2 separate regions of the Homo sapiens genome follow, and region 2 is linked to region 1. A link means that fine-mapping ties the variant in region 1 to the expression of a gene that starts in the linked region. Tissue or cell type: monocytes. Region 1 holds a variant in brackets; the other region holds the start of a gene. All regions are shown on one strand. Distances are from middle to middle.

Evidence for each region. PIP is the estimated chance that this variant, and not a neighbour inherited with it, causes the effect.
Region 2: DENND5A starts here. The variant in region 1 is fine-mapped to the expression of DENND5A in monocytes (TOPMed, PIP above 0.99).

Annotation. Positions count from the first base shown.
Region 1 is chr11:9,093,690-9,096,444 of GRCh38, forward strand. It overlaps the pseudogene KRT8P41. Among named protein-coding and RNA genes, the nearest start is that of SCUBE2, 3.5 kb to the left of the region's middle. RefSeq lists enhancers at 1,625-2,126, 2,127-2,626 and a silencer at 1,718-1,923. The variant G/A (reference allele first, on the strand shown) is at 1,206.
Region 2 is chr11:9,263,849-9,266,454 of GRCh38, forward strand. DENND5A (DENN domain containing 5A) reads right to left here and starts at 1,502. Exons shown (of 23, transcript NM_015213.4): 1 at 1,113-1,502. The coding sequence starts at 1,221. RefSeq lists enhancers at 34-373, 534-653, 1,734-1,803 and silencers at 944-1,303, 1,354-1,453.

The DNA of each region.
Region 1 (2,755 bases):
ACTGTGTCCAAATGTCAGTGTTTTTGGTGTCAGGAGGAACTTGGTTGGCTCTACTCTGGCTGCAGGCTGCCCTCTATTCTGCAGCTGAGGTCCCCACAAACTTCTCAGAAAGGCCTCAGACACCGTCCCTGGACTGAGGCTAAAGCTCCCTCTTCCTCTCCCTGTCTCCTCTCCACAGGCTGAGAGGCCATGAACCAGGCCTCAGGGGTGCGAAGAGGCAGTCCAGCCAGCCCAGTCACACTGGTGTGGGCCTTTGAGGAGGCTGAAGAAAGCCTGGTAGTGGCCGGCCATGCGTGCCCCTGAACTACACATAAGCAGGTGCCACTCTGCACTCATGGGACACCATTCAGTGCCCACCTTTCTTGACTCCCCCCCCGCCCCCAGCAGCCTCTGACATGTGGACTACTTCTCCCTGGTGGAAACTCTCCTTACCCTTGGTTGTCATCGTGGCAAACTCCTGGTTTTCCTCCTACCTCTCAGGAAATGCCTTCTCCACCATCTTCTAGGAGTCCTCTTTCTATACCCTCTCTCTGGATGGTTCACTCATTCCCTTGATTCCATAATGTCAATCTCCAGCCTGGATTCATCCCCTTGGTTCAATCCCATGTATCCAGTTGCCTACTAGATACCACCTTGATCTTCCCTAGATCCCACCTTGATCTTCCCTAGATCCCTCTGATTGAACATGTTCAAAACGAAGCTCATGACCTAGAAGAAGCTTCTCTGCTTTCTCGAATCTCTGCCTGGTTCAGCCCACCCACCCCTCCACTACTGCCTCCACCATGTCCATCAGGGTGACCCAGAAGTCCTACAGGGTGTCCACCTCTGGCCCCTAGGCCTTAAGCAGCCGCTCCTACACAAGCGGGCCTGGTGCCCATATCAGCTCCTGGAGCTTCTCTCAAGTGGGCGGCAGCAGCAGCTTCCGGGGTGGCCTGGGCACCCGCATGGCTCTGGGTGGAGGCTATGGTGGGGCCAGTGGTATGGGGGGCATCACAGCCATCATGGTCAGCCAGAACCTGCTGAGCCCCCTTAAGCTGGAGGTGAACCCCAACATCCAGGCTGTGTGCGCCCAGGAGAAGGAGCAGATCAAGACCCTCTACAACAAGTTTGCCTCCTTCATCGAGAAGGTGCGGTCCCTGGAGCAGCAGAACAAGATGCTGGAGACCAAGTGGAGCCTCCTGCAGCAGCAGAAGACAGCTCAGAGC[G/A]ACATGGACAGCATATTCGAGAGCCACATCAACAAACTTCGGCGGTAGCTGGACACTCTGGGCCAGGAGAAGCTGAAGCTTGGCAACATGCAGAGGCTGGTGGAGGACTCCAAGAACAAGTATGAGGATGAGATCAATAAGCGTACAGAGATGGAGAATGAATTTGTCCTCATCAAGAAGGTAACGTGGCTGAAGCTAACATGAACAAGGTAGAGCTGGAGTCTCTTCTGGAAGGGCTGACTGACGAGATCAACTTCCTCAGGCAGCTATATGAAGAGGAAATCTGGGAGCTGCAGTCCCAGATCTCGGACACATCTGTGGTGCTGTCCATGGACAGCAGCCGCTCCCTGGACATGGACAGCATCATCCCTGAGGTCAAGGCGCAGTACAAGGAGATCGCCAATGGCAGCTGGGCTGAGGCTGAGGGCATGCATCAGATCAAGTATGAGGAGCTGCAGACACTGCCTGGGAAGCATAGGAATGACCTGCGTTATGCAAAGATGGAGATCTCTGAGATTAATAGGAACATCAGCCGGCTCCAGGCTCAGACTGAGGGCCTCAAAGGCCAGAGGGTTTCCCTGGAGGCTGCCATCGCAGATGCTGAGCAGTATGGGGAGCTGGCTGTTAAGGATGCCAACACGAAGCTGTCGAGCTGGAGGCCGCCCTGCAGCGGGCCGAGCAAGACATGGTGCAGCAGCTGTGCCATGGAGCACCAGGAGCTGATGAACGTCAAGCTGGCCCTGGACATCAAGATCGCCACCTACAGGAAGCTGCTGGAGGGCGAGGAGAGCTAGCTGGGGTCTGGGATACAGAACATGAGTGTCCATCTGAAGACCACCAGTGGCTACTCAGGTGGGCTGAGCTCGACCCACGGGCACCTCACAAGCCCTCTACAACAGGCCTTAGCTACAGCCTGGGCTCCAGCTTTGGCACTGGTGGAGGCTCCAGCTCCTTCAGCCGCGCCAGCTTCTCCAGGTCCATGGTTGTGAAGAAGGTGGAAACGCGAGATGGCAAGCTAGTGTCCAAGTCCTCTGATGTCCTGCCCAAGTGAATGGCCATGGCAGCCCCTACCAGCCTGCCCCTCCTGCGGCTGCCCCAGGGCCCGTGGAGGAAGCCGCTGTGCAGTGGAGCACAGGAACAGGAGACTCACCTGAGGCTCAGCCCTAGCCCTCAGCCCACCTGCTGGGGGAGTTTACTGCCTGGGGCACCCCCATTGGCCATGCTTCCAGCTACAAAACAATTCAATTGTTGCTTTTTTTTTTTTTTTTTTCAAAATAAAATCTCAGCTAGCTCTGCCAACTGTCCAAAACAAACAAACAAATGGAGCTCATCTTCCTCAAACCTGCTCCTTCTCAAGTGCTCTCTCCTTTAGACAAGGGCACCACCATTCTGTTAACACCAAGTCAGAGGTTTGGCGGTCATCTGGGACTCCATTATCTCCCTCCCCACCACATCCGAACAATCAAGAAAATTCTACCTTCTTATTGTCTCTTAAAACCATTCTCTTCCTCTGTGCCCATTGCCTGAGCTCAGGGGTTCGCCATCCCTCA
Region 2 (2,606 bases), 170 kb after region 1:
AAAAAAAAAAAAAAAAAAAAAAAGAAACACTGGACTTTTTCTGGTGCCCAAAAACAAAACTGTCTTGTCATCGTTGAAGCCGAGTAAGATTAGTCAACAGGATAATCACTTTCGAAAGAGAAACTTTACAGTGACAGAAAAGTGAAAAGGAGTCCCCCTCATCAGGATGACACAACCTTAAAGTACAACCCGACAAACCTCCACCCACTTGAAACCCACTAACTGGAAACTCCAGACAAAAACTTATTTTCAAAACTGTTACAATTCAAAGACTCCAATGACAGTGCAGTGGAAAATTCACGGGGACTGTATAATTTTCACGGCCTTCTGCAGTGAGTGCCAAATCTGGTCAGGGCCCCATCTTTGACTCCCCTCATCACTTTCCCTTTCAAATATGACTTGAAACGCATCAGAACACACCAAGCCTCTCCAACTACAATGCTGCTACCCTTTTATTCACAAACGCCTCTGTCCTCATAAAGGACATAAATTACTTTTCAAAAAAGGCATGGCCCCGGGATACAAGCCCTTTCCAAGGCTAAGGGAGTTCCTACTCTTCTTGGTGCCGCCCAAGTTCACTTTATTACTTCATATCCCATCCAGACGCGCAGAGCTGCAATCTGACTCAGGGGGCCCAGCCCAGGGCTGGGGTATAACGGTTTTGAGGAACTAGTATCACAAGCTTCTTGGGAAGTGGCCAGATAAACTCACCAAGTTTTTGTTTTCCTTTTTTTTAAGTCTGGGTGGAACTTACTTTCACTAGGACGTGGGACGCCTTCCCTCCCTAATGGGTGCCAGAGGACAAGCTTTCCTTTATTTTAAACGAAGTCACTCAACCTACACCAAACTGAGAACACACAACCCTCCCTCTTTCTGGTCGCCGAAGACGTGGCCACTGCGCAGCGGGCCGTAGGTTTGGACCCCTCATGGCTCAGAGCCCCTCATCCGTTTCCCCCCTCCAGTCCAAAGCCCCCTTCGCCCGCGCCCGCCCTGGTCCTCCCGGCCGACACTCGCCCGGCTCCCGGGACAAAGCGGGGCTGAAGGAAGGTTTCTTCTGGGGTCCCCGACGACAGCGGGCGCGGGAAAGCGCCCCGGGCTCGGCGCGCACTCACCCGACAGCTCGTCCGGCTCCAGCCCGGTCTCCGTGTCCAGTCCGCAGATGACAAAGTAGTCGGCGAAGCGACTGGGCGCCGAGCCCCCTCCGCCGCCGCCGCCACTCATGGCGCCGGGGCCGAGACCGGCCGGGCAGTGCGGAGCGGCACCGAGCCCCCGCAACCCGGGCGCCCGCCCGTCCGCCCTCAGGCCGCCCCTCCCGCCGCCGCCGCTACCGCGGCTCGGGCCGCCGCCCCCGGCCCTGGCCCGGTCCCCTCGGCCGCCGCGGCTGCCGTGACGGGGCGGGGGGGCACCGGGCCGCCCCGCACCGCATCCTGGATGCCTTCCCCTCCGCGCCGCCGCCGCTGCAGCTAGCCGAGAGCGCCGCGGCCCGAGCGAGCCTGGAGAAGGGCGGAGAGCGCGTGGACAGCCCCCACCGTGACCCTCCTCCTACCGCGCCTGCGCAGGCGCCGTCTGGGAGGGGGCGGGCTCCTGGGGGAAAGGATGACGTGATGCTCTTCGGACCCCGCCGGCCGCAGCTTCCCGGGAGGTCGCCGCAGCGCAGCCGGTGACTGCTTGGTCGCCCGCAACTGCCACTCCCCCGGGATTGAGACTCCTTTAGGGAGGGCTGAGGAGGTGCGAGAAGAGTGGGCGCAGCCTGCAGAGCCGGGCATTTGGCCCATGCTCTGCCCCCAACCACCCACCCAGCAAGCAGAGGTCCAGAGATCTTAGCGCGGCCTTGCCATGAGGATGGGGTCTCACGACTGAGCTCGGAAGCTCACCTAATCCTAGCTGCAGCGTGTCAGCCTAGACCCCAGACAGGGCCTTCTCCCTGTCCTCTCTTTTGGCAGGGGCGGATGAGCCGGTTTTATATTTACCCTTATTTTACAGACGGGGAAACTGAGTCTCAGAAAGAAGCAAGGACTTATCCAAGGTTACGCTGAGTCTAAGAGACATAAGCCTGGTCTGGAATCCTGGGCTTGTGGTCAGCTCCCCGTTCCTCGCCGCTCCCACCTCCCAGCCTGCCCTTTTCCCACGCTCTCTCCTTTTTTCTCTGGAAGCCTCCAGAGGCGCCTGCCATTTGGGAGCTCCTCTTCCTCTTCACTCTGTGAAAACTCTCAGATCCACCCCTAAACCTGTTTTCCTGTAAGAGGATAGGGAGGAGGCGAAGGGAAACTTACCTATTGGTCCTTGTCCTAGGACCCTCCGATTTCCTTTCCCATAGAAGCTAGGCAGATGTGTCTTTGTTGGAAACTGGAGATCAGAGGCCAGAAAGGCAACACAGGTATAGTGGTCACTAGCATGGGCTCTAGAAAAAAATGCTCGGATTTCAATCCTGACGATCATTTACTTTTGACCTTGAGCAAGTTAATCTCTAAGTGCCTGGCGTCATGGTTTTTGAGACAATTACATAAGGTAAATGCAAGTACAGGTAAAACAATGAGAATACTGCCTGGAACATGGAAATCACTCAGTAAATATTACAGATTTTTTTTTTCAAGACGGAGTTCTGT